Linked DNA regions of Homo sapiens: region 2 is linked to region 1. The links come from fine-mapping of genetic effects on gene expression. A gene starts in region 1. The other region holds a variant in brackets. All regions are shown on one strand. Distances are between the middles of the regions. Region 1 holds the start of DMGDH (dimethylglycine dehydrogenase). Region 2 overlaps BHMT (betaine--homocysteine S-methyltransferase).

Region 1 (16,752 bases):
ACCCCCATTTCTAAAAAAATTAAGAAAATAGCTGGGCATGTTAGCGCACACCTGTATAATCCTAGCTAACTGGGAGGATTGCTTGAGCCCAGGAGTTTGTGCTTATAGTGAGCTATGATTGCACCACTGCACTCCAGCCTGGGCAACAGAGAAAGACCCTGTCTCAAAAAATAATGATAATAATAATAGTAATAAAATCCAATGCAGGTCACATTAAATCAGTATATAAGTGAGCAAATAAGTAATTCAAACATTAAAGCGTATGCCCTCAGTAACAATTCAGAAGTGGTGAGAGGGTGTAAGCCCTCCCTCGAAGGGTATTTCCACTTGCCTACATTTCCCTGCCTAAATGATCTTTCCAGAATAGCCTCATGGCCCCCTGGCTCACTGCTCCCTGGTCTCTGTTGGCAGGTCGCCTCTTTGAAACATCCTCCCTAGCACCTCCTTCTTCTCCTCCTCCATCATTTTGCATCCTTGACTGTACTTTACTTTTCTTCATGGTGATTACTCTCTAGCATTGATAGGTGTTTTCTGTCTGCCCCACCAGAATGTGAGTTCCACAAGGGCAAGGTCTTTGGGCTTTTATGTCTGGGCAGCACTCTCCCCCAGATTCAGCTGGAAGCAGGCAATCCTTTTCATGCTAGACTCTCCACCCTATACTTTGAGCACATACTAGATGTCAAAAAGCCCCTCAAAGTGAGGTTCCCTCTTCTCAGCCAAGGAAGGCTAATGATGAAATGGGATGATGAGCAGGGGCTAACGCTGCCCAAAAGAAAACTGCACCAGCAGTCCTAAAAACTTCCTCTCCCATCCCTAAATGATGTCAGAAATCCCTGGTTTGGCAATATGACAGCAGTGTCAATCCCTTCATCTACCTGGGCAGCTTTCCAGGTAAGCCTAGTCAATTATGGCGCAGCCCTGGAACAATTATGCATACCATGAAGAATGCAAGACTGACTTGGCCTGTGTCTCATGTAACACAAAAGCTGTGCTACACTTTTGCAGTCCTCATATTCAAGTCCTCAGGGGGCCAAACTGTCATCTCACAGCATAAAATTAAAACCATAAGGCCAGGCGCAGTGGTTCACTCCTGTAATCTCAGCACTTTGGGAGGCCAAGGCAGGCGGATCATGAGGTCAAGAGATAGAGACCAGCCTGACCAACACGGTGAAACCCCGTCTCTACTAAAAATACAAAAATTAGCTGGGTGTGGTGGTGTGCACCTGTAGTCACAGCTACTCGGAAGGCTGAGGCAAGAGAATCGCTTGAACCTGGGAGGCGGAAGTTGCAGTGAGCCGAGATCGCGCCATTGCACTCCAGCCTGGTAACAGCGAGACTCCATTTCAAAAAAAATAAAAAATAAAAAATAAAAATAAATAAAACCATAAGTAAATAAAAGGACCACCAAATGCAGGTGAGGGGAGTATAGGTAAAGATCTTGGGCCCATATCCAGGCTCACCCAGACAGTATCCTTCCATATAAAGCTGACATTTATTATCCAATACCTTGCGTTTAATAATTTTGCACATGTTAACTCAATCTTCATCACAATCCTATTAGGTAAGTACTATTAATATTCCTATTAAGACATCAGAAAATGGAAACTTATGTAACTTGCCAAAAGTCACACAAGGGTAGAAAATTGCAAAGCCAGGATTCGAATCCAGAAGCCATCTGTTCAAGATAAAGACATCATAAATATTGGTTGTCATCTGGAAGTACACCAGTTAAACTACAACTGCACTTCCAACGCTATTGAAGGGGAACGCACTCTAAAGAGCTCACAGTTGGGAGTTGTGAACGGGAAGGAAATGGACTTTACTCATGCACAATTCCACGCTTATGACAGTTTGGGGTGCTTTTCTTACTGCGTGCCAGGTAGATCCAGCCGTGAGCTCTGATTTCTCCAGCAGGACCACATCTTTCATCCCTGCTTTGGCCAGGTGATAAGCCAGACTCACACCAACACAGCCACCTCCAATTATCACTGTTTCTGCTCTGTCTTTCCATTGTGTTTCTGCAGATAAGGGTGGTTTTTCCTCTCTGGAAGAGGGAAAGTTAAAATGGGAACTTCAATCGGCAATGGTAGCTATAGTTCTGGCCTAAAGCACTTCCCCTTACCCGTTTCTCTAGTACTTAACACCCACTGACTGAGATTTGCATGATACTGATTTAATAATTTGGAGCATCTAAACTGTGATTTAGGCAACCTGGTTGGGGGAGGGGTGTTTGAGCCCCATTCCATATAATGATTCTGGTCCATTGTAGCTACTATAGCCAAAGAAATGAACAAGTAGCTTCTTTTTTTCAAAGAATCTAGAGAACAGGTCAGGTTTGGTGATGCACACCTGTAATCCCAGCACTTTGGAAGGCCGAGATGGGAAGATTGCTTGAGCCCAGGAGTTCAAGACAACCCTGGGCAACATGACGAAGCCCCGTCTCTATAAAAAATACAAAAATTATCCAGGCTTGGTGGCACATGCCTATAGTCCCAGCTACTTGGGAGGCTGAGGTAAGAGGACTGCTTGAGCCTAGGAGGTTGAAGCTGCAGTGAACCATGAGTGCGCCACTCCACTCAGACCTAGCAGACAGAGTGAGGCCCTGTCTCAAAAGGAAAAAAAAAAAAAGATTTAAAATTGTACAGCTGTCTAGGGTACTTTACCATGAATCAAGCTTGTAGGACTGGAAGTTGCTCTAGATGAGTCTGAGTGAGAGGTGAGTGAATGTGAAGGCCTAGGACATTACTGTACACTACTGTAGACTTTATCAACACTGTACATTTAGGCTACTCTAAGTTTATTTTTAAATGTATTTTTCTTTTTTCAATAATAAATTAACAGCTTACTGTAACTTCATTATTTTATAAACTTTTAAATTTTTTTGATTTTTGTAATAACAGTTTAAATGCAAACACATTCTACAGCTATATAGAAATATTTTATTTCTTTATATCCTTATTCTGGAACCTTTTTTCTATTACAAAATATATATATTTTTTTAACTTTTCAAACTTTTTTTTTTCCAAGACAGAGTATTACTCTTTTGCCCAGCCTAGAGTACAGTGGCTTGATCTTGGCTCACTGCAACCTCCACCTACTGGGTTCAAGCAATTCTCCTGCCTCAGCCTCCCATGTAGCTGGGATTACAGGTGTGCACCACCACACCCAGCTAATTTTTGTGTTTTTGGTAGAGATGAGGTTTCACCATGTTGGCCAGGCTGGTCTTGAACTCCTGACCTCAAGTGATCCTCCAGCCTTGGCCTCCCAGAGTGCTGGGATTACAGGCATGAGCCACTGTGCCTGGCCTCAAACTTTTTTATTAAAAACTAAGACACAAACACACACATTAGCCTAGGCATACACAGGGTCAGGATCATCAATATCACTGTCTTCACACCTCCAAATCTTGTCCCACTGGAAGGTCTTCAGGGGCAATAACACATACACAGCTGTCATCTCTTTTTCTTTTCTTTTCCTTTTTTTTTTTTTTTTTGAGACAGCGTCTCACTCTGTCACCCAGGCTGGAGTGCAGTGGCGCCATCTTTGCAAATTCCACCCCCAAGGTTGAAGCGATTCTTGTGCCTTAGCCTCCCGAGTAGCTGGGATTACAGACACGTACCACCACGCCCAGCTAATTTTTGTATTTTTAGTGGAGACGGGGTTTCACCATGTTGGCCAGGCTGGTCTTAAACTCCTGACCTCAAGTGATCTACCTGCCTTGGCCTCCCAGAGTGCTGGGATTACAGGCATGAGCCACCATGCCCGGCCAGAGCTGTCATGTCTTATGATAACAATGCCTTCTTCAGGAATACCTCCTGAAGGACCTGTCTGAGCCAATTTTACTGTTAACTTTTTATTTTATAAGTAGGAGTATACTCTAAAATGATGATTTAAAGTATAGTGTAGTAAATACATAAACCAGTAGCACAGTGATTTATTATCATTGTCAAGCATTATGTACTGTATGTAATTGCATGTGCTATAGCTTTATGTGACCGGCAGCACAGTAGGTTTGTTTAACCAGCATCACTACAAACACGTGAGCAATGTGTTGCATATGACATTATGACAGCTATGACATCACTGGGTGATAGGAATTTTTCAGCTCCATTATAATCTTACGGGACCACCATTGTATATGTGGTCCATCATTGACCGAAACATCATTATAAGGCACATGACTATACATATATGTATATTATAATATGTATATTCTATGTGTATACACATTTTAGAGTAAATTGTAGGTATCATACCCAGTTACTTCTAAATATTCTTTTGCTAGTTTGGTAAGAAAAAGGACATTCTCTTACATAACAACAGTACAGTTTTCAAAGTCAAGAAATTTAACATTGATATACTATTATCTATAGTCCATATTTAAATTTAATCAATTATTCCAATCAATTTATAGCTACTTTTTTCCAGTCAGAGATCAAATCCAGGATTCTGTCTCTTTAATCCCCTTTAATTTGGAACAGTTCCTAATACTTCCTTTGTGTTTTATGACCTTCACATTTTCGAAGAGTACTAGCCAGTTATTCTATTTTATTTTTTTTTTAGATGGAGTCTTGCTCTGTTGCCCAGGCTGGAGTGCAGTGGCACGATCTCGGCTCACTGCAAGCTCCACCTCCCAGGTTCATGCCATTCTCCTGCCTCAGCCTCCCAAGTAGCTGGGACTGCAGGCGCCCACCACCACGCCCGGCTAATTTTTTTTTTTTTTTGTATTTTTAGTAGAGACGGGGTTTCTCCATGCTAACCGGGATGGTCTTGATCTCCTGACCTCGTGATCCGCCTGCCTCAGCCTCCCAAAGTGCTGTGATTACAGGTGTGAGCCACCACGCCCGGCCAGTACTAGCCAGTTATTTTATAGAACAGTTCTTACTGTGAGTTTGTCTGGTGTTTCCTCATGATGAGACTTATGTTATGCATTTTTGGCAAAAACATCATGAAACTGATGTTGACTCCTTCCCAGTGTATATGATTAAGAAGCGTATGATGTTGGTTTGTCCTGATATTGGTGTTGTTTCTGTCTGATGACTTGCTTAAGGTGGTGTCTGTCTGATTTGTCTAGTAAAGCTACCATTTTTTCCTTTGTATAAGTAATAATGTGAAGTGTTACTTTGAGACCATGTAAATATCCTGGTCCTTATCAAACTTTTACTGAGTGGCTTTAACATCTATTGATTATTTCCTAACCCCATCATTCCTATTATATTTAATAGTTGGCATTCTACTGTAAGGAAGTAATTTTCTTTCACCCTTGTTTGTTGGTTGTTTATATTAACATGAATTTATGGATATTTATTGTTTTCAGTGGTTTCTAATCCATTACTAGTCATCATTTATTTGAATACCAAATTGTCCTAGATTTGGCCAGCAGGAGGTTCTTTCAGTTGACTCCTGTATGCTTTTGACATGGCTACATAATTCTTAGAGCATGTCCTTATTTCCTGGTGCCACAACATGTTTCAGCAGTTTTGTTTCACCGGTTTTTAGATGACTATTAATGTCTCTTTGTATGCTGTGTGAGAAAAAAATAATGTACATATGACCCAACTACTTTGGACGGAAATCCATTTTTAAACAGACTGGGCATATCTTGTACTTTAGTTGAAACCATTATAGTGGTGACAAAAATAATAATCTTAAAGGTTCTTTTTTGTGTGTTCAAAAGAAAGAATTATTTCTTTCAGGACAGTGGTCAGTTGAAACAACAACAACAAAAGAGAACTTAAGATCAGGAAACCTGGGTTTGAGTCCCCAATCCAACTGAACAGCTATTTTAGAGAAATTTACACAAGGGTCTCAAAGTTTTCTCATTTGCAAAACGGAGCTGTGAAGGTTCTGTTTGGCAACATATGATAAAGCATTATCAAATATATAGTATTTCCTCGGCCCAGCATGCCATAATAGGTTTCAGACTAGGTATAGTGTTTTTGATTATGTGGATAACTATCTTAAAATCCTTCTGAATGTAGTCGAGGATGTTTATAAGAGTATTTGAAATAAAACTTAGGAGCCATGCAAAAAACCCAGGTCAGTTATCTTCTGTATTAGAAATGATAAGCACAAACTGTATGCTTGTTCAACTGCTTTCCAAAATAAAACATTTTTTGATAGTTTGAAATTGGGTATATAAAGAATATGCAATTGAAATAACTCAACTTTTGGGTGTTTTTGTTTTTGTTTGTGAGATGGAATCCCTGTCGCCCAGGCTGGAGTGCAGTGGTGCAATCTCGGTTCTCACTGCAGTCTCCGCCTCCCAGGTTCAAGCGATTCTCCCGCCTCAGCCTCCCAAGCAGCTTGGACTACAGGTGCACACCATGACACCCAGTTAATTTTTGCATTTTTATTAGAGACAGAGTTTCACCATGTTGATCAGGCTGGTCTCAAACTCCTGGCCTCAAGTAATCTGCCCACCTCAGCTTCCCAAAGTGCTGAGATTACAGGCATGAGCCACCACACTCAGCCAAAATATGAATTTTTTGGATAGTCTTGAAATTTGTATCTTATTTATCTAATCAGTTTGTTTGTTAAATTTCCATTTTATTTTGCACTGGATTAAAAACATCATTATTATAAATATTTTTGCATTGCTTTACAATTTACAAAGCACTTTCACATGCATTCTCTTATTTAATATTCACAGCAATCCTGTGAGTTATATAGAGCAAAATTAGTATCCTCATTTTATAGATGAGGAAACTGAACCTCAGAAGTGTAAGGTCACATTCTGTGTAACAGATGGCGCAGGAACTGTGAGTTGGTGGCTACTGCATTCCCAGTACTGGAGACAAACCTAGCACATCACAACACCCAGTAAATATTTGTTGAATGGATAGATGGAACTCAAAAGCAGGTCTTCTGATTCCAGAATTTCAGGTCATAGGACATAAAATAAAATTCGAATCAACTCATAATAATGTTGAGTGATGCTGATAAACAAGCCTTTCCTGGCAACCAGGAATAATCTACAAATATAAGAAGTCGAAAGATGTTCAGCATTGCTCATATTTAAATACAGACCAATCAAAACAAGGACATGCCATTTTTACCTATCAGATTTAGCAAAGATAACAAAATGGGCTATTCTGGGAACCAGGGAAGATGTGGGAAACAGACACACACTGGTGTGCCGCATGCAAACTCTTGCCACCCACTTGGAGAATGTGTTGCTGTCTTTCAATCTTTCAGATGCACGTAACCTTTTCCCTAACAAGTTCACCTTTAAAAACTGTTGCTACCGACTCCCATATGTACTCAAAGATAGATGCCTAAGAATTTTCACATGCACGTTATTTGCAGTAATAAACAACCAAAAACCATTTAAATGTTAATGAATAGACTAACGATAGTGTAGAATATTGACAGGATGGAAAACTATGCAGCCATTAAAAGGAACAAGGCAAGTCAGTGTGTGCTGATATGGAACAATCTCCAAGATATATTGATAATTGTAAAAAGCAAGATGTCAAAAAGCCAAAGGAAAACCTATACTGACCTGTGTTTGCCTATGCGTAGACTGTCTCTGGTTAGATTCAGAAGACACTATTAACAATTGTTCACTGGCCAAGGGGATTGGGGCAGGAGAGACTTTACACGGGGAACCTTTGGATACTGTTTCACTTTATAATTAAAAGATAATTCGAGAAGATATATCAAGGCCTATTTCTTGGAGGCCAGAGCGCTCCTAACCCCTGAGCCTGCCTCAGCCTCTGGCTCCCACCCCCGCAGCCGCCCCGTCGCCTCTGAGCAGGACGGGGCCCCACTCACCCTTCCCGGCCGCAGACAGAGCGCGGGCGCCCGGGGGAGCCCTGCAGCGGGCAGCTCCGCAGCAGGAGGCCCCGCAGCAGCTGCGCGCCGGGACGGAGCATGACTAGGCCGAGGCCGAGGGCGCAGGCGCCTGCTCCGAGGCCAGCGGGCAGCCTGAGGCCGCGGGGCCGGCGGGGCGGGGGTCGGATCCTCCCCCCGGGCTGGGGGCGGGCTCCTAGACGGCCGCGCGCCCGGGAACCCGGCGCCCACAGAGCCGCGGCACCATGGCACCTGCTGGACGCCCGGGGGCCAAGAAGGTGAGTTTCGTCCCCTCGATCCTCGCGGAGCTCCTGGCCGCTGGGCTGCGAGCGACTCCGTTCACACCCGGCGTCCATCCCTAGCCAAGCCCTGGGGCCTCGGCAAAACACTTGGACGGGATGGCCCTGAGCCTCAATTTTCCCCTGTCACGGGTTGGTTAGCGTTTATGGAGCCCTTACTCGGTGCCTGGCGCTGCACAGAGTGCTGTGCTCAAGTTATCTCCTCATCTTCACAATTATCCCCATTTCACAGGTGAGGAAACTGAGGCTCGGCGAGTCAGGCGACTAGCTCAGGGTCACGGGTCCAGCCCCGCGGGGAGCGAGGATCAGAAGTCTAGCTTTCGGACGCATGTCGCGCACACATTTTCTTCCCTCAACCGACCCTCGCCCGCAGCTCTTTGGGCTAATCCGTCCGGGAACTCTTCGGACTGTCCCCTCGCGTTTTGGAAAAGTCAGCAGCCTGGCCAAGCAGCCTGGCCTTGCGAGTCGCCGGCTGGTCTGAAACTAGTCCTGGGCAAGGACGCCCCCAGAGCTGCGGTGCAGGGTGGAGGGTAGGTGGGATTCGCTAGCACCCCTCAACCTCCTCTCACCCGGTGGTCCCCAGCTCCTGGCCCCTTTCCTGGTCTGGTCACCAGATGTTGGCTTTATGCCCAGCCATTTCTACGTCGAGTATGTGTGGGGGTGGGATGAAGGAGTGACTAAGCAAAATTAGGAAGGGCATGAGCTTGGACGAAAGACATCCCCAGGACCCTTCAGAGACCCCCACCCGCTCCAGCCCTGTCATTCAGAATGGGAGGAAGGGAGGAGGGGCAGTTTATGCGTGGAAATGTGCACCACCGAGCTATTTATACTAAAAAGTTAGAAACGACCAAGATACTCTGCAATACGGGATTCTAAATAAATTAAGGTTCATCTACTTAAGTTATTAGACAGTTAAATAACTTAGTATGAGAACCAGCTAAGTGCCTTGGCAATGTTAAGTTGCAAAAGGAAATATATCACAAACTGATCCCAACCATATACAAATATTTATATACACACTGTAAGGAAGGACACAATAATGGTAATAGTTACACAAGATGTGGAATATTGGTTTAAAAAGCATGTTTTAGGATATTTTTTCAGGTTATAAAAGCAAAATGTGAGCATTGAAAGAATACAGTTAATAAAAATAATCAAAGAACATTGTGCTTTTTTCTCTCAACTTTCTCTAATGCTATGTTCATCTTTACAGTTCATATTTTTAAACGTTTTTAAAATGCCCTGTTTTTGTTCAGTGTCTTTGGGGCCTCTACTGTTACAACACCAAGATTATCACACACTAATCCATGTGAATGTGTACCTGGGAGTTAAGGTGTTAATGGGAAGGAACTAATCTCACCTCTCTCCTCAGCTAGCAGGTACATTTTAAGAATTCATTTAATTGCCACAGACAAGACCTCCAATTAGGTCTTAAATCCAAAAGAGCAGTTCTGCTGGCAAATCTAGGAAAAGGGGAAGTTATTTTAGACAGACTGGGTTTTTCTGATCACCTCCTACTACACAGTGAAGTTGATCCCCACTGAGTATGAATAGAGATGTCTTGAAGCCAGATCTTAAACCCAGAGGTCTTACGTAGTGATATCTGCAAAAAGGGGGCATAAATGCACCCTAGAGCTCGCTGTCAGATGCAAGGCAGGTTCACTGCCAAACTGATGGGGAGGAGGGAATGAAAATATAAATGTACTGCAAAATTAATTTACAGGGTTCCTTATTTTACATGTTCCTGTCTTTATAATTTTACAGTTGACTTTAGATCGTACTAGTATAATGGTGAGGAACAACACACACTGGGGCCTATCGAAGGGTGGAGGGTGGAAGGAGGGAGAGGATCAGGAAAAATAACTAATGGATACTAGGCTTAATACCTGGGTGAGGAAATAACCCATATAGCAAACCTCCAATGATGCACATTTACCTGTGTAACAAACCTGCACATCCTGCACATGTACCCCTGAACTTAAAAGTAAAAAAAAAAAAAAAAAAAAAAACTAAAGAAGGGATCATACTGGTATAGTAATTAATTGAGGTAGTTAGAATAGCAGTGAAGGAAGGGCTAAAAGATGCTCTGATCTCAAATCTTGATAACTTAGTTATTTTGCTAATGGCTATGTAGAAAAATGGCAAATTGGCCGGGCACAGTGGCTCACACCTGTAATCCTAGCACTTTGGGAGGCCGAGGCAGGCAGATCATCTAAGGTCAGGAGTTCGAGACCACACTGGACAACATGGTGAAACCCTGTCTCTACTAAAAAATACAAAATTAGCTGGGCATGGTGGCATGCACCTATAATCCCAGCTACTTGCGAGGCTGAGGCAGGAGAATTGCTTGAACCCTGGAGGTGGAGGTTGCAGTGAGCTGAGATCGCGCTACTGCACTCCAGCCTGGGCGACAAGAGTGAAACTCTGTCTCAAAAAAAAAAAGAAAGAAAAGAAAAGAAAAATGGCAAATTTAAAATGGTGGACAAACATCCAGATAACAAATGAAAATGTCCTCCCTTTACTTGGTTTCATAAAGACACAGTCAAAATATATACTACAATTTTCTTAAAACCTACCTAATTGTCTGCTAAAGAGTAACATTTTTTCTTCTTCAGGACAAAAATTCTAGCATATGCAATACATCTGACATTTTCAAAACAGTCCTGTTTATTTGCTAATTCTTGGCATAGTTTCTTAAGTGTCTACTCATTTTAGTTGTTATATGTGGTGGTAGGGATATAGACCAATAAGATATGTCACCTGCCCCCAAGCCTCTTACAGTCAAACTGAGGTGACAAGTAAGTAACCAGATACTGCTGTACAGGGGGATGCATGAATGAAGGATCTGTGAAGTTAAGCAGGACACAAAAGGGGTATAATCACAGGTGAGACTGGGTCAGTGAGCCTGTGCTCTGGTAGCAATGGAAGACAGTTCAGAGTAGGGCTGGAGAGAACTGGAGACCATTTCAATAATCAAATGCAGTGAGGATGGTGGGGCATTTGAGAAATGTGTAATACACTTGGCATAACCCTGTGATAGGTTGGATGTGGGAGGTGAGAAGCTAACCTACAACATCTGAATTCTGTGCCAATGTTTTCCCTCGACAATTGTTTGAGTAAATTTGATTCTTTTTTTTTTTTTTTTGAGACAGAGTCTCACTCTGTTGCCCAGGCTGGAATGCAGTGGCACAATCTCAACTCACTGTAACTTCCAACTCCCAGGTTCAAGCTATTCTCCTGCCTCCACCTCACAAGTAGCTGGGATTACAGGCACCTGCCACCATGCCCAGTTAATTTTTGTATTTTTAGTAGAGATGGAGTTTCACCATGTTGGCCAAGCTAGTCTCAAACTCCTGACCTCAAGTGATCTGCCTGCCTCAGCCTCCCAAAGTGCTGGGATTACAGGCGTGAGCCACCGCGCCTGGCCTAAATTTGATTCTTAACATGGTGAACCTAATGAAGTGTATGGGATTTTCAGGAAAACAGTTTGTACACAGTAACTGTACCTCTGACTTTCTCTTCTGTATTCCTGTGTAGCATTTATTGGTCACATTCTGCTGTGATTATTTGTTGATTTATTGGCCTTCCCCAAAGTAGCCAGACTTTGAGCTTGTGGAGGGCAGAGACCTTGTCTTATTCTGATGTTTATCCCACTTGCCCACAACTATACCTGACATGTGGAAGGTCTCAATAAACGTCCAAAATTTAAGGCCTTTTTTATATTTCAAAAGTACAAATTGAAAAGAGTGAATTGCATTTGATGCAGGGAGGAGAAAGAAAGAGATGAGAATCAGTAAATATTAACATTTCTTCTGCATTCAGCTAAAATTCAGCTTTAGATATAAAATATGGAAAAATAACCAGAGTTGAGAGCTCTCTCTGCCAAAATAGTGTTTATGTTTAACATAGTTCACACAGCTGGGCTCCATTTGCCTGCCCTCCAAGTGCACAGTAAAAAGATGCTGTAGGTAGAGTGACCTGGTATTTACCTCTAGTTAAACCCCTTCTGATGGACCTTCTTGCACTGCAGAGGAAAGAAAACTAACCACTTTGCCAGACTCCTTTGCAGCTAGGATCTGGATAAGAACTAGCATCCCCAATCAGATGCACCAGTATGAGTCTGGGAAGGTGGAAGCATAGCAAATGTGGCCATAGTGCAGCATTCCAGGGTCACGTGAGGGGCAGCTGAGGTCGCTGGAGCAGCCTCCTTCTCCCTATATGACAGCTGTGTCCTGAAGCCAACAGTTCAATAGTGGCTTCTCTTAGTTGTGGCAGAGGGTGCAGCCCCAGCCGGCCAATTCAGTCATGTTTTTCTAGGGGTCATTTCTGGAAGCCCAGTGTAAATTTTTTATGTACCCATTTCTCAATATTAAACTCCTTTCTGCTTAGTCAGAGTGGTTTGTACTTCTGCAGCTAAACTGAACATGGGGAGAAAGCTAGAATAAGCCCCCTCTCTAGTCATGCCATTCGATGGAGATTAAGAGATTATTCAAGCCATATTTGACCTCTCATGTTTGGTTCCATACTGTTAACAGGACTGTCCTGGGAGGCTCTGTGGGAAGATCCTCACGTCTGCTTTAATTTCTGGTTGCTTTTATTAGATCCAGGATTGACCCAGCTAAGGACAAAGACTCCTGTAACCAAGATCAAATTAGCTTCCCTCTTATTCTTTATTGCCTTTATGGCCTTCCAGCCTCCTGGGAAAAGATTGAAGAAAATAGTATATCAAGCAATATGGCCAAAATGTGTTTGGGATCTCTTTGTTCCTTGGTATCCAAGGAAGCTCGCTCCTGACACCTGGGTGGGTCACTTTGTGTGGGGAGTAAGCAAAGGAGAAATAGCAGATGCCAGACACTAGAACAGAAGCAGTTTCTCTCCAAAATCTGTTCCCCCTCCTTCCGAAGGATTAGCGTTGGAGCTGGACACATGGACATTCACTGATGATACTTCCTGGCTTCCCTTGCAGCAAGGTAGAGCCATGTGGCTAAACTCTCACGCAGGAAATGTAAATGTCAATGAGATGAGTCACTTCTAGGTCTGAGCTAAAAACTTTAGGATGAGCTTTGCCACACTGTTTCCTCATCGTTTGAGACAGAGTATGAACGTGACTCTGATCCAGTTTCCCCCATGCTGAGGAGGACAGTACCCTAGGGCTGGGTTGGCAAACGCTTTCTGTAAAGGGTCAGATAGTAATTATTTTTAGCCTTGGGGGCCATACAGTCTCAGTGGTAACTACTCAACTCTGCTACTGTAGTGGAAAAGTGGCCATTAGACAATATGTAAATCAATGGGCAGGGTTTTACCTAAGACTGTTTTTACAAAAACAGGTGATGTGCCAGATTTGGTCTGTGGGCTGTCATGTGCTGACCCCTGCCGTAGGGAATGGCAAAGCAATAAGATAAAAGGACTGTGCAATTTGGTGCACACTCTGTAAAAAAGAGTCCCCCACAAACAGTGGCTTTCCTCTTACAGAGGAAAAAGAAACTACTTTTATTTAAAGCCACTGTTGTGGGGGCCTCTTTTTTACACAGCTTAGTTTTACCCTACACCCAACACGTAGGCCAGTAAGCTGCCTATGTACCCTGCTTGATGTCTCCCTTGGATTCAGGAACTGAGGGGGTTTATGTTGATTTCATAGAACAGATAAGACTAGTTAAAAGAGGCATCTGAGGCTTTTCTCCCTGATCCATTCATTGCTTTGTGTCCAGCTATGGGCAGGCCTGAAATGAACTGGCCTATTATCAATAAAAGGTTGCATCTTCCACTGATGCAGCCTACAAAAGAGGGATCAGGATTGCTGTGGGGAGTTGGGAGGAGTGGGTGGTTTGCATTGCTCAGGGAAGGCATCTCTGAAAAGGTGACACTTGACCAAAGACCAGAAAGCAGTGAGGGGATGACCCTGCAGGCACCTGGGGAGATGTGCTTTAGACCAAGTGAAATGGGAAAAGTTCCCTTATGCCCCTTGCAGGGTGTGTGATGGAGGCGTGGATCACTTCTTCAGCACCCCACAGCTTAAACCCCTAGGGGGAGCATGCAGGTACCCCATGGCAGCATCTAGGGGTGAATGTTTACAGCTCCTGAAGCCCCAGTGGGTGTGTGTTACAGTGTGCTCTTTCAGCTTAGCTGTCCACTGGCAGCTTGTGTTAATCAGCTCAATTAGACCCTCCGCCTTATCGAAAGGACAGAGGGCTTTCTGTATCCTGGGGTTCTTGCCAGTGTACTGGAAAAATTGGATCACACATGGGCTTGGAGAATGAGTGCAAGGTTTTATCGAATGGTGGAAGTAGCTCTCAGCAGATGGATGGGGAGCCAGAAGGGGGATGGAGTGGGAAGGCGGTCTTCCCCTGGAGTCAGGCCGCTCAGCAGCCAGACTCTCCTCTGATTACCCCTGGCTGAATTCCACTTCGTCTGTGTCATTCTGCCACCGATGGCCTGCCAGAGTCTGTGTGTTCTTCTGCCAGTGTGTTCCTCTCAACGTCCAGCTGCTTGTGTTTGTGTTTGCTAGGGTCTTGAGGTTTTTATAGGCACAGGATGGAGGTGTGGCGGGCCAGGGTGGTCTTGGAAAATGCAACATTTGGGCGCAAAAACAGGAGTGCCTATCCTCACCAGGGTCTGTGGGCACAGGCCTGAGGCCTTTCTGTATCAAAAGGAAACTGCACCCCATGGCTAACTGCTCTGAATGGAACCTTTTAAATAAGTTATGAGTGGGCTAAATAGGAAGGTGGTAAAATAGAAGGAAAAGAGAGTAGGAATTTAGAAGCTAGTCTGATTTTTTACTTACTTAGCTCTGTGATCTTGGGCAAGTCAACCATTCTGAGCCTCAGTTTCCTCATCTACACCTGAGAATAAAAACTGTGTCCTGCCTCACTGGCAGAGTTGCTGGGAGTGCCAAATGATAAGACACGTGTGAACACACTGCATGACTACAAAGCGTTGTGTCCACTACCGTTCTGTTCAGTGGCTGACACGAAGAAAAATTATTTTTCTCACCTAACAAGAGGTCCAGGGGTAACAGCCCATGGCTGCCGCAGCCACCCAAGGATGTCTTAAGAAATCTGCCTCATATGGCTGTCAGATGACTGCTGTATTCCCAGGCATTATGTTGGCATTCCAGCCAGGAAGGAGGAAAATAGACAAAAGGGAAGGGAGTGGGCGTCTATGTCAGGAAAGCAAAACTTTTCCAGAAATCCTCCACCAGCTTCCGTATGTGTCTCACTGGCCAGCACTGTGTCACAGGGCTGCTCCCAGAGGCAAAGGAACCTGGGAATTTTTTGAAAGTTAGGGGCATTGTCCCCCCACACAAAAACAGGGGAGAGAATGCACACTAGGTAGACAACTAGCTGTGTTGTCACAAACATGTTGAAAAGCCAAAATAACTATCGTGGAATCAGTGCTATAATTTGACTCAGATTAAATGTTATTTAAGAATAAATAGTCTCAGCCCTTTCATTGTACAAAATAGGAACCTGGATCGGCCAAGAAATATGGTATGCTCAATCTTTCTGAAATATTATTAGAGCACATGATTTTAACAAAACTACAGCTCTAAGAACGTAATACCACTTCACCTAAAATTAGAAAATGCTTTTAGGAAAAAAAAAAAAAGTAGAGCGGAGCTTAGGTGCTTTTTTTCTCTTCTTCAGGGGATTTTGGAGCGCCTGGAGAGTGGGGAGGTTGTGATTGGAGATGGCAGCTTTCTCATTACTCTGGAGAAGAGAGGCTATGTGAAGGCTGGGCTCTGGACTCCAGAGGCAGTGATAGAACACCCAGACGCAGGTTGGTGTCCACATCCCCAAGAGTGTCTACCTGAGTGGTATTTTATTTAAATCTGATTGAGAGAAGATCAAGAAAAAAATAACAACTGTTTCAAAGGGGTGTTTTGCTTGCTAAGATTGCCAAGATGTGGAGATAATGGCAGTATACAGGCGGAAGTATATGGAAGAAAATGACCTCTCTCTCTCTCATACACACACCTACCCACATCACACACCCACCCATCCACACGCCCACACACACTCCCACACACACACATCCATGCACTCACACCCCAACCCCACATCCACACACACCCCACATCCACACCCACATACACCACAAACACACATACACACCCACACAACACACTCTCACACACACACACACTCTCATACACACACACATCTGCATCTTAATGTACAGGCAGTGCTAAAATAGACATCTTAATATTTGTTCCATGAATATTTACCTTGTAGATATACAGAGTTTCCTTAAAACAGCAAAACTGTTCCTGCTTCTGATTCACCCTGCTGACAATGTGCATGGTTAAGTGTAACAGCGTTTATAGTGAGGGTGATTAATGGTAGTCACAGTGTAACAGAGCACAGACAGCCAGGTTCCAGGGTTGGGAGGGCAAGGAAGTCAACACAGTTTTATATCATCCTCCTGGCTGGGAAAAAAAAAAAAAAAAAAGAGCTAGAGGTAAAGAACTATGATGGGATTAGATAGTTACCTGAAATGAAAACTTTAATTCTCTTCTAACTCTTTTTTTGTGTGTTTGTTCTCCTAAATTAAAGTGAGAAAATAAAGCCAAAGAATGAAATGGGTGTAAGAGAACACTAGCTGAGACTGGAACTTTTGATTCACTCTGATTTTATGTATATTCACACAGCGTATCAGATAA
Region 2 (16,752 bases), 70 kb after region 1:
ATAGCACTTGATAATTTTAAAGTATGTTTTAGAAATTTTCTTAGGAGCAAAATAAGTACAAAGTAAATCTTGAACAGGTTCACTAAGCACCCACCCTGTGAAAAGTATTATGGAAATCACTGCTGCACAGGAAAAGTAATTCAGATGTTAATGCCACTTGAAGAAGTTGGTAGGCTAGCAAAGAGGATGAGACATGAACTGTCATAAAGGACTCAGCAACCAGCCAGGGACAGATAAAGCGCTATGGAAAGGGGCTTCCAAGTTCTTTTGAACATGACCCTTAGTAACAAACACAATTTATATAATGACCCAGCAAAACACATCACATCTTACTGTCGAAATTAAATGTGTGATCCATCCTAGTATTTTCTGTTCCATTCCTTTTCATTCTATTTCATTTATAAAACATGCTAGTTGAGACTTTTCAAATGGATTTTTATGACCCACTACTGGGTTTGGATCCACAGTTTGAAAAATATTGCTACAAGACACTTAAGGAGACCATCCTGTTTAAGTTTATTCTTATAAGTAGGTCAGTCATATGAGACCTGATCAATAAATATCCAATACCCAGAGTCCTGCTCTCAGAGTTCTTCTGTTTCGTGACCCACTTTTCTACCAGTAAAAGACATAGACCAATGGGGAGGAGGGGAGGAGAGATGGATATTTCAGCCCTCTCCATCCTAGTCAACACTGGATCCACCTAGTGCCTCTGGGCCATAAGGCTGAGCAGAGTGAGCTTGTATTAGTTGGTAGCTTTTAAAAAATATAATAAGAAAAAAGTAGAGATTCTCCAAACTCTAGCCTGGTTTCCTAGATTGAGAACTATGATATTTTTCTCTGATAATTTAATATCTACTCTCCTACAAAAGCTCAAGCCTGAAGATACAAGACTATTAGAAGAAACATGACTACCCTCAGTGTATTAGAAAAGAGGTCATGCAGCTTTCTAAACATTATTGAATTGTTTGAGCTGTTTTGAAATTGTAATTCTTTTCAGCTATTAAAAAGAAGAGCAATGAGACTATATTGCTTGTATTTTATTCTTATCCTGGTTCTACAATTTGCTAAGTCTTACATGAAACCTCTATACCTCAATTTCTTCACCTATTTAAAAGAAAAACCTACTTCACAAGTATGCTGGAATTTTAAAGGAGCAGGTGGCAGTATTTAAAAGGAAAAGAGGCCCTACTGGCTCTTTCTGGAGAGCCAGTCAGGGAATTCTAGAAAACAAAAATAGGCCAGGTGTGGTGGCTTACGCCTGTAATCCCAGCACTTTGGGAGGTGGACGGATTACTTGAGGATAGGAGTTCAAGACCAGTTTGGCCAACATGGTGAAACCCTGTCTCTACTAAAAATACAAAAATTAGCCAGGTGTGGTGGCACACACCTGTAGTCCCAGCTATTCGGGAGGCTGAGGCATGAGAATCACTTGAACCTGGGAGGCAGAGGCTGCAGTGAGCTGAGATTGCACCACTGCACTCCAGCCTGGGAGACAGAGTGAGACTCTGTCAAATAAATAAATAAATGGAAAGGCAAAGAAATTGCTAGAATTTTGTTACTAAGAGTTAATAATCCACCCCTAATCCCTCAATGCACAGAAACAGAGCCAAAGCAGCACAACTTTCAGAGGCTGCATATGGCTAGTGGAAACAAGAGTGAACTCCACTTGTTTTTTGTTTTTTGTTTTTTTTTTTGGCAAAGTTGTTATCTATCATTTCTCTTATATTCTCAAACCAAGCTCAGTATTTAAAGCTTTCACTCACAGATGACATTTTATTGGACTTGCTGTTCTATTACTGTGTAAAATGCATGTTCCTTTAATATTCTTTTCAGAGTTTTGTTGCCACCAAAATATTATAACCTTTAATCATTTTTATATCCATCGTTTTTTAAAATATTTTTCTGAAAAGGAGCTATGGTAAAGACATTCTTGAATTAAATTATATGTCAACACTGCCTCCTAGTGGTATAGTTCATATTTTGAAATTGTTTTTAAAATTTCAGTCCCTCCTCCAAACATGTGCATTTTATTTCCAGAAATCTTGTTCATTAAGAGAGAAAGCTCATTTAATACCTAAGAGTTGATTTATGTTAAATAGACATTTCTCACTGGTAAATATTTTTTATGGACTCCGAACCAGAGGGACCTTAGAGATCAAAAGTCCAAACTATCCTTTTAAGGATAAGATTACCAAGGCAGGATGCAAAGTCAGGAAGCACTTCTCACTATTCCAAGGCTGTCAAGAAAGACGGCTTTAGCTTAGCCTTTTGTAGGAAGGGTTGGGGAAGCTGGGGGGCAGTACCAGAACAGATGGTCCACAAAACTAAGGAGTCATCCTCCAGCCAGGAATAAAATAAAGGTCTTTGGCGTTACTCAGAGTAAACATGAACTCACTAAATAAACTGTTTGCAGTTTGTACTCTGACACTTCTACACACTGTAGCAAACCACCTTTGGATAAGACAGCCAAGCCAACGCAGACCCCTAAAGGAAACAAGAACTGCGCAGGAATGAATCAAGAACATCCGTTCCCAACTTCTCCAGATGGGGGCAGCAGGTCGCCAGCAGGAAATGCATGAGTAACCTTATTTTGTTTGAACTTAAGTTATTTCATCAGGCTAAGCTCTAACAGTTTTGGTCAGTTTTTTCTTAAGACATGTGGATCTTTGAATCACATCCAGGACAACGCACCCATCAAGAAAAGCCTTTAACAAGTTTGAGTCAGGAATTAAAAAAGAGGAAGGAAGGGAGAAAGGGAGGGAAAAAGGGAGGGAGAACGGGAGGGAAGGAAAGAAAGGAGAGAGGGAGGGAGGGAGGAGAGAGGCAGGGAGGGAGGAAGGAGGGCGGGGAGGGACTGCAGGAGAGCAGGCAGGCAGGCAGGCTTTATGCATCTCCAACTAGATCCCCATTTTCCCCAGAAACGTTTTTTTTTTTCCAGCCTTCAGCACACTGAAGGGCTTGAGGGCTTTATAGACTGTTCTCCCAAATAGCCTCCTTGATAGTCAATAACATCCACTCAGTCAGTCTGGAACCTCCCACGTGTTACCTGCCAGGTCAAGGACCCTGGCTCTTAGATAACAAAGGAGGAAGAAGTCAATTTCAAGAGAGAAAAATAGGACTTATGAACGGCTTCAGAAATAGTATGCCTGGTGGGATGTTAAACGACAGAATTAGAGATAGCAAGGTATAATATTTCTAAACATCTTCAGGAAGGAATATTTAGTGTTTGAACAGAAAATGATGAAAGGCAGGCAAATGCAAAGAATTCTCAAAAATGGTAACAGGAAGGGTAGGATCCTTTGGTAAAATTGGTGGGAGTGTGGTGAGAGAAAGGAATGGCCAGAAAATGCTTCCGGTTTTCAAGCAGCTGGAGGCATTCTGTTGGCATTGGATAGATGAAAAATTAAGATGATGGAAAATGAGAGAGACAGATGTCATCATTTATGCTGCTGTGAGTTACAGGAATAATACCAAACAAGTCATGTACAGCAAAACAGTAAAAACAGGTTAATTTATATGCCATGAAATCAAACGCATGATCATTTTAACTTGTGGTTAGATGGTTAGATGTTTACATTTAAATTTATTAAAGCTTCCAGGCTGGGCACGGTGGCTCACGCCTATAATCCCAGCAGTTTGGGAGGCCAAGGCAGGCAGATCACTTGAGGTCAGGAGTTCAAGACTAGCCTGCCAACATGGTGAAACCCCATCTCTACTAAAAACGCAAAACTTAGCTGGGCGTAGTGGCAGGCGCCTGTAATCCCAGCTACTTGGGAGGCTGAGGCAGGAGAATCACTTGAACTTGGGAGGCGGAGGTTGCAGTGAGCCGAGATCGCACCACTGCACTCTAGCTTGGGCAACAAGAGTGAAACTCCATCTCAAAAAAATAAATAAATAAAAATAAAAATAAATAAATTTATGAAAGTTTCCTATGTAAATACTTACATGAAATGTATTAAGGGAAACATTTCACTTATTTTTAATAAAAAGATATTTCTCTAAATGCCTGAACTATCTTTAGCAGTCATCACTTGCATGCAAACTGTTAATGTACCCTTCAGAAATTATTCCAGTTTGTTCTTTTGGGCAGGTTCAGTAAGACCTCTGCTTGGCCCCATTCTGTGGTTATTTGTTCCAATTTACTACATGATCTTGAAAGGAAAAAGCTGAATATCTTTTTAAATAGTTCAGACTTTTTCTCAAGTCAGCCTGGTCATTCTTCCAATTATTCTGACTTAATGAGATTTTACTGTTCTTTGCAAAAGTTAACGTCCTAAACACCTGAGGTAGCTTAGTGGAATTCACCTATGGCTCAAAAACACTAGTGGCACATAGCAGAAAAAGCAAGGAAGACATTTAGAATCAAGACTTTGGGGTGCAAGTCCTAGCTTTGCCCCAACTCCCTGCAGAACATTGGGTAAATCACCCCACTTCTCTGTCCTTCAATTTTCTCAACTGTAGGATAACAAGTTTCTAATGCCTTGCTGGAAAACTCCACAGTTGTTTGCGATTTGATGATATAAATAAATAATAGCCTCATCATTGTCAATAAATATTTACTGAATGCCACTTGGTGGTATGTTTCCAGCGGACTGAAATTGTTAATTAATTATTCCCCTGGCTAAACAGACAGCCGACTAAAACAAGTAACACTGTTCAGAGGGCAGGGAAAATGTTACTACCCTAGACTCAGCCTGGTGCTGAAAAATGAAAATGTCATTCCTCCCCACAGGTACTGTTTTCTAAGGAGACTTGGGTCTGTGGTTTTTCATATTATGAACTGTTTCTATTTTCAAGGTTCAGAATTCTTTGTAGATTTGCATAAGCTAAATATTCTAAAAATCATCAAGTGAGTAATTTTTGGTTTAGAGTCCTTCATCTACCTAGGAAGGGAGAGAGCTGGCTTCTCACATTTTGAGAATAGGAGAGTGGAATTTGGGAGCTAGACACCTCAGGATTTTTTTCCTTCCATCAGGCCATTCTCAGCAGCTTGATGACTCCCAGATTTCTCTCTCCAGCCTGGACTACTCCCCAGCATTCAGGCACATGATATCAGCCTGGCCTGTAGACCCAAGCCAGCGGTCCGTGGCCCGGACCCTGTACCTCAGGCCCCAAGCCACTTCCCATGGCCATTCAGGCAGATGCCCCAGGTCTGGAGCAGGTCCCACATGGATCCTGGTTGTCAGAGGCACCTTCCTCAAAATTGTTTACATCCTCCTCCAGTGGCTGAGAGCAGCCAGGGCCAGCTGTGCCATCTAGGAAGGGAACCCCAAGCCTGGACCAGTCAGCATGGGACCCAGTCCTCATTTGTCTCCTTCTGAGTGTTCAGTGACCCTGTACATCCCCGTACCATGTCCCTCACACCCACCCCACTCCTGGAGTGACCAAGTGCCCTAAGAAGCCTAAGGCTTTATGTTGGTCCTGGTTCCAGGAGGGAGCCCTGGTGATAGGATGGCTTCTGCTGGCAGGAACTGTATTTTATCCCAAGATCTGGTGAGATTGGGCTACCCAGTATGGTGCTGACACTCTGATTTTGGCTGACTCACATCAGACACAGGACAAGTTCAGGACCTTTGCCCCTTGCCTTGAGCAGTGAACGTAGGCCTTCATTGGCTCTCACCTGTGAGGGTTCTGACTGCAGCAATACCTATGGTCTGCAGCACTCAAGCGTAAACAAGAATCTAACATAAAATGAATTATTGACACTTCATGTATATATATATATATATATATGAATATATATTCATATATATGAATATATATGAATATACATATGAATATATATATGAATATACATATATGAATATATATATTATATACGAATATATATATGAATATATACGAATATATATACGAATATATAAACGAATATATACGAATATATATACACGAATACATATACGAATATATATATACGAATACATATACGAATATATATATACGAATACATATACGAATACATATACGAATATATATATACGAATACATATACGAATATATATATGAATATATACGAATATATATATGAATATATACGAATATATATATGAATATATACGAATATATACGAATATATACGAATATATGTGAATATATACGAATATATGTGAATATATATGAATATATGTGAATATATATGAATATATGTGAATATATGTGAATATATATGAATATATATGAATATATGAATATAAATGAATATATATGAATATATATGAATATATATATGAATATATATAAGAATATATATACGAATATATATGAATATATGAATATATATGAATATACATATATGAATATACATATGAATATACATATATACGAATATACATATGAATATACATACGAATATACATGAATATACATACGAATATACATGAATATACATACGAATATATATGAATATACATACGAATATATATACGAATATACATATACGAATATATATACGAATATATATACGAATATATGTGAATATATATACGAATATATGTGAATATATATACGAATATATATATGAATATATGTGTATATATATGTGAATATATATGAGAATATATATGTGAATATATATGTGAATATATATGTGAATCTATATGTGAATCTATATGTGAATATATATGTGAATCTATATGTGAATATATATGTGAATCTATATGTGAATATATATATGAATATATATGTGAATATATATGAATATATATGTGAATATATATGAATATATATGAATATATGTATATATACGAATATATATGAATATGTATATGAATATATATGAATATGTATATGAATATATATATTGGTATAGATATAGATATATATGTTAGTTTGAGACAGTCGTTCTGTCACCCAGGCTGGAGTGCAGTAGTATGAGTTCAAGCAATCCTCCCATCTCAGCTTCCCAAGTAGCTGGGACTACAAGTGCACACAACCAAGCTGGGATGATTTTTGTATTTTTGTAGTGATGGGGATTCACCATGTTGCCCAAACTGTTCTCAAACTCTGGGCTCAAGTGATCAGCTCACCTCTGTCTCCCAAAGTCCTGGGATTACAGGCATGAGCCACTGTGCCCAGCCTGTTCCCATATATTCTTGGTAAGACTTGCAGTTGTGGTCATCATCAACAAAGCACAGTAACCACCTCACAGAGAGTCATTTAATGGATGCCAGTTTTCAGAAGCATCCATTGATGCTTAATGTACCACCAGGAGTAATGATATAACCAGTATTAAACAAATGGTGTTGGGGAGCTACAGAAACAAGATCCATATTGTCTCAATACAGTTTCCAAAGAAGCATGGCATTGTCAGTAATAATGGCATTGCTATGTTTTTCTCACAATGGGAGATATGAAAGTATCACATGTGACAATAAAGAACAAGAGATTGTCCCTGTTCCTCAATAGGGACAGATGGTGTCTGGATACTATGAAGAATCTTTATGTGCACTAATTGGACAACAAGCAGTTACCTCTTCTCAACCCATTATTCTAAATCCTCATGAACATGTCACTCACTATACCTCACACAGGCCCATGAATGTTTAGATATGTTTTTAAATCAAATACCTTTAAAAATATATTTTAAAATCTAATTTTATATATATATATATATATGTAGGTGCTCCATAAAAATATTTTCCCAGAGCTCTCCACACCCAAGGAGCAGCCCAGTTGGACTCTGAAAACAAGGTCCTGATCTTCCCTTGCCCACTTAAACTTGTCTCTCCCACAGGATCTTTCATATTTGAAAATGGAAGTTCTACTCTTCTAGTTGCTCAAGCCAAAATCTTGAAGTCATCCTAGACTTTTCTCTTCCTCTTATACTCACATTCAATACATCAGCAAAGCCTGTCAGATCTACCTACAAAATGCATCCAAATTTGACTGCGTTCCACTTCCTCCTCCTTATTTCCTAGGGAGTAATGGACTAAGCTGCCATCATCTCTCACCTAGAATATTTCACAATAAATTTCTCTACAAGTTCCCTTAATTCCTCCCTAGTCTCCCTCAGATCTATTCTCCATAGAGTGTCCTGAATGATTCTTTTAAGAACTAAGTCATATCATGTCAGTCATCATTTCAAAACTTTGCAGTTGCCTTGTGTCACAGATCTTGAGTCATGCACTCAGATGTCCCTTCAAGGAAGGACAGGCTGCCCATCTGTGGGTTATGTGACTGCAGCCCCCAGCTGCCATCCCCTTCAATGTCAAAGCTGCAGACCCTTTGTTCAAAGTCACATCCTTCCCAGGCCAGCCTGCATCTGATGCCTGAGCAAAGCAAGGGCATAAAACCCTGGCATTCTGGCCTGACTAGC[G/A]GCAACTCTGACAGGAGATATTCTCTCCAGAACTCACCACCAGATTGGCCTAGGCATTTTTTGACCTGCATTGCAGTTCAGCTTCTACTTCTGCCCAGTCCTATCTCCTCTTCCTCTCTTTTCAAAAGTGTCAGACTGCACTGCAGTCTGAAGGGTGTCTCTGCCTACTCCTGTGCCTTCTACCTTTAATTTTCACTAGTATTTCCACTGCCCCTCCAGCAAAATCTTGCACTTCTATGTCCTTCTCAGCATGTGATTCCCAGAGGACAAAAAATGGCTCATTTTCCTTGACTGCCCTATGTGAAATAGCAACACACCCCTCTTCTATATCCTCTATCTTCATTGGGGTGCTTATTCTTCTCCATAGTGATTGTTACCACCTGCTGTGCATTTTTGGTCATATTTTATTCATTCACTCATTCATTCATTGTTTCCCCACAACATTAGAATATAAGCTCCTCAAAGGCAGGAACTTGACTTTGTTCACTTCCATACCTGAGTGCCTAGAATAATGCCTTGGGTATAGTAAGAGCTCAGTAAATATTTGATGAATGAAAAAACATGAATGCATATTTGGGAGACCCTTGCTAGAAAGAAGAAAACTTGAAAATTACAGAAACATTTCATTATTTTTTCTCAGACATCAGACTATTAGGAGCTGAAAATGTTTGTGGTTGGCTTACTTCCAAATTTGAACCTACACTCCCATTCTCTTCATTCCTACATGCACATATTTATGCTTCACATATTTGAGCACCTTATATGAGGCCTGACACTGGACTTAAGGGCTGAGAGGTACAAAGATGCCACTTGTCAGTTCCTGGATCAGTGAGGGAGACAAGCCCTCACTAAAGGACTTAAGTGCTCTAATAGACACTATGATTTGGATGTGGTTTGCTCCCACCAAAACCCATGTTGAAGTTTAATTGCCAGTGCAGCGGTCGTGGGAGGTAGGGTCTAGTGATGGTATATGGTCATGGAGGCAGATCTGTCATAAATAGATTAATGCCTTCTGGTGGGAGTGAGTGAGTTCTCGGTTTCATGGGAATGGATTAGTTCCCAAGAAAGCAAGTTGTTATAAGTGAGCCCAGCTTCTCCTATGTGTCTCTTTGCACATCCTGCTTCTGCTTTCTGCCAGTAGTTGAAGCAGCAGGAGACTCTCACCAGATGAGCTGCCTGATCTTGGACTTCCCAGCCACCAGAATCACGAGCCAAATAAACCTCTTTTATTTATAAATTACCCAGTCTCAGGTATTCCATTATAGCAACCCAAACAGACTAAGACCATAAATGCCACAAATGATGCTGTGAAGGCACAGAGAAAAGCTGCTTACACCAGCATAGTGAGGGCTGCGGTGCCCTGAGGAAGCCCAGAGAAACACTTCCATTCTGCTCACCTCTTTCTGTTCTTCAGACCCCCTAAGCTCATTCCTACCTCAGAGCCTTGGCACTGGTTGTTCCCTCTGCCTCCTGATCTTCAAGTGGTGGTACCTTCCTGTTATTCATGTCTCAGATCAAGTGTCACCCTTTCAGGGAGGCCCTCTTGAATACCTAAAGTTCTCCATCCACCCCGATCCCCTCAACCCCTAAACCTTGATTGGTTACTCTGTCAAGTAGCCTTGCTTTAGTTTTGTTGTTATTGTTGTTGTTCCCTTTTTGAGACAGGGTCTCGCTCTGTCACTCAGGCTGGAGTGCAGTGGTACAATCTTGGCTCACTGCAACCTCTGGCTCCTGAATTCAAGTGATTATCATGCCTCAGCCACCCAAGTGGCTGGAATTACAGGCACGCACCACCATGCTCAGCTAAAATTTTTTTGTGTTTTTAGTAGAGACAGAGTTTTGCCATGTTAGCCAGGCTGGTTCAAACTCCTGGCCTTATGTGATCTGCCCACCCTGGCCTCCCAAAGTGACTGGATTACAGGCATGAGCCACCGCACCAGGTACTTTTGTTCTTCATAGCACTTCACATGATCTATTTGGTTATTTAATTATTGTATACATTCTATCTCTTCCTCCCTGTGCTATAAGTCCTAAGAGGACAGGAACCTTGTTTTTCTTACTTATTGTCCCAACTCCAGTGCCTACAAGAGAGGGCTTGACACACACAAGGGACTTAATAATATTTATTGAATGATTATGTGGAAAAATGAATAAAAAGATAATGCTCCTATAGAGACATAAAGAAAGACTAGTGGCCAGGCTCAGTGGCTCATGCCTGTAATCCCAGGACTTTGGGAGGCTGAGGCAGGTGGATCACTGGAGGTCAGGAGTTTGAGATCAGCCTGGCCAACATGGTGAAACCCCATCTCTACTAAAAATACAAAAATTAGCTGGGTGTGGTGGCGGGCACCTGTAATCCCAGCTGCTTGGGAGGCTGAGGCAAGAGAATCGCTTGAACCTGGGAGGCAGAGGTTGCAGTGAGCCGAAATCATGCCACCGCACTCCAGCCTGGGCAACCAAAGCAAAACTCCGTCTCAGAAAAAGGAAAAAAAAAAAAGTGACTAGAAAGTCAAGGTGGGTGTGAGAGCAAGGCATTCCACGTTCCACATTAGGGGAAAAGCTTCTGCAAAAAAATGGTTTGCACTGCCTTTTTTTTTTTTTGGACAGAGTTTCGCTCTTCTTGCCCAGGCTGGAGTGCAGTGGCGTGATCTCAGCTCACTGCAACCTCCGCCTCCCGGGTTCAAGTGATTCTCCTGCCTCAGCCTCCCACATAGTTGGGGTTACAGGCACCCGCCACCATGCCCAGCTAATTTTTTGTATTTTTAGTAGAGATGGGGTTTCACTATGTTGACCAGGCTGGTCTTGAACTTCTGACCTCAGATGATCCACCCACCTCAGCCTCTCAAAGTGCTGGGATTATAGGCGTGAACAATCGTGCCCGGCCTGCACTGCTCTTTTTTCTTTCTTTCCTTTTTAAAATATCTTGCCCTTTCTGTGAAGATTCCAGAATGCACTACTGTTTTTTATCTCCCCAGGAGTCCCAACATCAGAAGTCTTCAGGTCTGGGTAATGGGATATGGTGATTCATTATACCATTCTCTCAACTTTTGTATCTTGAAATTTTTCATAATAAAATATTAAGGAAACAAAAGTCTTGGAGGCAAGTAAGTAATATAGATGTATGAAACAGCTCAGTTTTCAACCCAAAGGTGGAGCTGCATAAACCGGAAACAGCAGGCTCTGCATAAAAAATACTCAAATTTATTTTTTCCCCAAACTCTGGTGTGAGCTAAACACACCAGAGCCTGAATTCAGCCAGTTTGTGACCCCTGAACACCATAGGCTAAGACATGGATCCCAAATAATCTATTCACTCTATTCTGAAAAATGTTTACACAGAAATCCTCAACCATCTGGAGACCAAACCTCAGTAATATTGAAGAAACAATTTATTACATATTTTCACATAGCTAAAAGGGCAGATTTTGAATATTCCCAACACAAAGAAATAATAAATGTTTGAGGTGATGGGTATATTAATTACCTGATTTGATCATTATGCATTGCATATATGTATCAAAATATCACACTGTACACCATAAATATGTACAATTATGACTCAATTTAAAATAATAGCCAGGCACAGCAGCTCATGCCTGTAATCCCAGCATTCTGGGAGGCCAAGATGGGTGGATCACTTGAGTCCAGCAGTTCAAGACCAGCCTGGGAAACATGGTGAAACACTGTCTTTACCAAAAAAAAATTTAAAAATTTGAAATTGTTGGGTGTGGTGGTATGTGCCTGTAGTCCCGGCTACTCAGGAGGCTGAGGTGGGAGGACTGCTTAAGCCTGGGAGGCAGAAGTCACAGTGAGCCAAGATTGAGCCACTGTACTCCAGCTTGGGTGACTGAGCAAGACCTTGTCTCAAAATAATAATAAAAGAAAATAATAATATTAAAGAGTACCTCTATTTTCCAGAACCTCACTTCTGTTATGGCTCTGTTTTATGGCAGACTGCTCATTTTCTTACCTTCTCCAAAACTCCCCACAGGCAAAGGAGTTGGCTGCAGCTCTTCCATGCTCCCACTGCAACTTCCAACCATTCCTCTTCCACCCCCTGCACCACCCCATCAAAAGCCTCTTCTCTGAGGATCATCTCTTAACAATAGCCCACCTTCTTCCTGTCCTTGTTCTTTCAACCTTCTGCCTCCATGTCTCTCCACCACAGTCAGCAAAAGCTTGAACACCTCCTTACGAATTCTATCAACCCCAGCCATCAATCCCAGAGAACTCCAAACACCCACGAAGGTGACCCAGTCTGAAGCTGTCTTAGCAGCCACTTTGTCTCCCTCCCAGCTCACCTCAACTGCCCCCACTCCCTGCTAAGCCACACCTGAAATTCATAATGACCTTCCACCCTGAAATCCCACTCTCAGAGGCAGCCTCCCTCCTGAATCCAGGCCTCAATGAGTCCTACTACATCCGGGATCCCCAATCCCTTCGCCTTTCATTCTTTTTTCAATCTATCAGCCCCAATCTAACTTCACTTCTTTTCCTGATGTACTGCTTTGGTTTGCAACCTTAGCTAAATATTAGAATCACCTGGGGAGCTTTCATGACTCAGGATGACTAAGCTGGCTTAATCAATTACGTCAGATGCTCTGGGGGAAGGGCTCAATCAGCAGGGCTTTTAAGGCTCCCCCCAGTTGATTCCAACATGCAGTCACGGTGGAGAACCACTCAGTGCCCTGCAACCTAGATTCCATGGTTCATCACTTTAACCAATTTCCAGTGCACCTTCACTTCCTCATTCTTTTCTTCTCTGCCACATACTCCCCAAAAGCCCCTCAGCCTTGGAGCAATCCTGCTGCATACTTTCTCTATTCCTATAAGGAAGCTGCTGAATTCTGATGGAGGAAAATCACCAAACCATTAGCTTTCTCATGAGAATGAGTCTTACATAAGGCACTAACATAGTGGGATTTGAAGAATACCACCAATTCAAGATCATTCCTTTGCAACACACATTGACATCTAGCTCCTTATTGAGAGCTAGTCCTACCCCTATTGTTACCAGAATAGTGCAGTTAGTTCTGCATTGAGAAAAAATTATGAAATTCTCAGAGCTAAAATAAAGAGGGCCCAGTTGCTAACTAGAGACTCCTGTACTTCCAGGAGAGACTAGACTGGTTTGCCAGGTAATATTATGAAAATGTCTAAAGGAGAACTTTCCCCTTTGGGGGCAAAGATAAGGTTTGATAAGAGACCCCAGTCCCTGGATTGGGCCTCTTCTTCAAAACTAAGGGAGAGGAACTCAACGGAACCAAACCAAGGTTACAGGTTTCAGGGAAGAGGGAAGCCTTTCCCCTGGTCCCTGCTTGCATGACCTGTGAACACTGTTCTTGCCTATCTACCTCGAGCTACCAGCAGGAGAAGGAACATTGAGGCCAAAAGTGGAATGGTATGATCAGAAAAAGAGGGGCCAGATAACACCCCCTCAAATTCCCAGTTTCTTGAAAGTAGAGAACACGAGGCTGCTTCCTCCCCAGAAGCCCCATAGTTGGAATCCTGGAAAGTATGTGAGATTGGAGGCCATGGCCTTGTCAAAGCCATCACGGCATGAGGCAAAGAGGCTCTGGCCTTAGAAGAAGGTGGTTCCACCAGCTGGAAGCCCTAAAGCCCTAAAGGGAATCAAACCCAAAGAGTACCAGAGGTAGTCTCTCAAAGGTCTACCTCTGGTTTGCAACCTATCTAAGTCTCTCAAAGGTCTACCTCTGGTTTGCAACCTATCTAAGTCTCTCAAAGGTCTACCTCTGGTACTCTTTGGGTTTGATTCCCTTTAGGGCTTCCATCCTTGTCTCTCAGAGACAATGAGCCCCACAGCAATGCTGACTGCAATTCCACCTCAGGAGGTATCTTTTCCTTTTCCCTCCTCCCTCTCCCCATGCTAGAAGGGTACACGATGGAAAAGGGTGGGCTCTTGTGAGAGAACAGCACACACCCTACCCCTCTCTCACTCACACATACAAACACAAAATCACACACAGTCACCGAGGCTACAAACCTGGTATGTACTGAAGGAAAAGGGAGAACTTTAAATCAAACATGAACTTGAAGTTTAAAATGGAATCAGGATTTGTGGAGAAAGAATCTGATTGTCACTTTGGGTCAGATGTTCACTCCTAGTACAATCCACCATGGCCAGGGCTGGGTTATCTAGTGTCAAAATGGCTACCCGGTAGCCACCCCATGAAGGAGGGAGTCAGGCTTAAAAGACAGGCAGAGAGATGGTAAGTATGGCAGCCACCTCAGAGGTGGTTTTCCAGGAGTTTCTTTTCTTCCTGATCAGAAATTGGGACAAATTGGGAATGCTGAGCTTCTGAGAAGCTAAGTAATGCTGCAGGTAGAAAGGAATAAAGAAGCAAGACAAAGAAAGGGAAGCTGAAAGATACCCTTCACTTATGTAAATTTAGCCAGCCCAAGCTTATTCCTTTTTGGTTAACAGATTTCCTCCTGTAACTTCCACATTTTTATCTGCAGGTTTCTCCATTTATTATATACTTTATATGGCCCCACAGAAATCATCTTTGACTAATATATTACTAGAGCGACATATGACTATATTACAAGCTAAAAGAAAAAAACAACACAGGGTCAATAAACTATCTGGAGGAACATTGCAAAGCTTGGAAAAACTAAAAATGATTGCCAAGACACACATAAGAAGAAACAGGGAAAAAAAGCACAAATATCTTAAGGGTATAGGACAAGAATTGGGAATTCTGTCACATCTATGCCTGGAAAATAAGGGTGGTACACAGCACAACATGAAACTTGTATGATTACAGAAAACCGTCTCCAGGTGACTGCCCAGAGGTATTCACCTGTCGGAAACATATGACTGTCAAGATGAATCAGAGCTGTGTAAATTAACCAGTGGGTACAGTGTAGGCAGAAATATGTTTTAGAGAGAAAGGCTGTAGCCTTGGATTTGTGGGCAGGAGTAGGCATGCAGAGAATGAAAAACAGAACTAGGAAAGAGAACAAAACAAATTCCTAATTCTTTTCTTCAACTGCTTGTGCAATTCAGTAGCTGGGCTTAAGTTTCCAAACAGGATAAGAGATGGAAAGTAATGACATCACCTAAAGTATTAACATAACCTAAAGAATGGCTTAAATATTTTTGCATGTGAAAGGAAGTATAATCGGGAATAATGACTTTTTTTTTTCTTTTCCTTTTTTTGAGACAGAGTTTTGCTCTGTTGCCCAGGCTGGAGTCCAGTGGCATGATCTCAGCTCACTGCAACCTTCGCCTCCTGGGTTCATGCAATTCTCCTGCCTCAGCCTCCCAAGTGGCTGGGGATTACAGACGTGTGCCACCACACCCAGCTAATTTTTGTATTTTTAGTAGAGATGGGGTTTCACCATTTTGGTTAGGCTAGTCTCGAACTCCTGACCTCAAGTGATCCACCCACCTTGGCCTCTCAAAGTGCTGGCATTACAGGTGTGAACCACCGCACCCAGCCCTAATGACATTTATTTTGAGCAAAATTTTAAACTGTTTCCTTAAGCACACTCAGGACTGGATCCATAAAACCAGGTAGAGTGATTAACAAGCCTGCTCTCCAGTTCCTCAGCTTTATTTATGTTTCCAAATTGTAATAACCCTACTTAATGATTAAGAGCAAAAAATAGGATCCAAGTCAGTGTAAAGTGCATATTAAAATATTTTTCTTGCTAGATCATTATGTTTCTAGGAAACTTTTGGATTTCCTGGAACTATTTTGTATAATTTTTTAAAAATCTACAATAAATCTTACATGACAGATTCTGCTAATGAAAGAGATGGGAAAATGTTTGAATACACAGAAAGCTTTCTGGAAGTAAGACCTATGACTCCATTGAATAGTAAAAGGAAGGAAGAAATATTTTTAAAGATATTTAGCATTAGAGTGGCCTAAATGTTGTAAATAAACCCGTACTTTTGAGAATAACCTGTTTTGGCAAAAACGTAATTTCTTTTTTCCTTTTTTTTTTTTTAGACAAGATATTGCTGAGATGTTGCCCAGATTGGTCTCAAGCTCCCAAGTTCAAGCAATCCTCTGAATCCTCTGGCCTCAGCCTTCCAAGTAACTGAGATTACAGGCATGTGTCATGGTGCCCAATTTATCAATGCGATGTGTCTACAAGTGGAGTGGCACATTCAAATATTTGTTGCTGTTGTCATTTGTCCATTCATTTGTTGACTCAGTAGCATTAACTGAGTGTCTATTCCAATGTGCAGACACTATGCCAGGTGCTCGGGTGGAAGGAGGAATAAAAATAATGGTCATAATAACTACCATTTCCTGAGTGCTTATTACATGACTATCTCCTCAAACCTCACAACAAGAGAATGGCTACGTATTATTATTTACATTTTCCAGAAGAGGAAACTGAGACTTGCCTGAACCCACCTAAACCAGAAGGATAGAGCAAGAGTGAAGCCAGAGGTG

Evidence for each region. PIP is the estimated chance that this variant, and not a neighbour inherited with it, causes the effect.
Region 2: its variant is fine-mapped to the expression of DMGDH in T cells (TOPMed, PIP above 0.99).

The regions. Positions count from the first base shown.
Region 1 is chr5:79,061,744-79,078,495 of GRCh38, forward strand. It overlaps DMGDH (dimethylglycine dehydrogenase), which reads right to left and starts at 7,931. Exons shown (of 16, transcript NM_013391.3): 1 at 7,777-7,931; 2 at 1,870-2,044. The coding sequence starts at 7,877. It overlaps BHMT2 (betaine--homocysteine S-methyltransferase 2), which reads left to right and starts at 8,024. Exons shown (of 8, transcript NM_017614.5): 1 at 8,024-8,072; 2 at 15,737-15,869. The coding sequence starts at 8,040.
Region 2 is chr5:79,131,262-79,148,013 of GRCh38, forward strand. It overlaps BHMT (betaine--homocysteine S-methyltransferase), which reads left to right. Exons shown (of 8, transcript NM_001713.3): 8 at 1-1,027. Among named protein-coding and RNA genes, the nearest start is that of BHMT, 28 kb to the left of the region's middle. The variant G/A (reference allele first, on the strand shown) is at 8,318.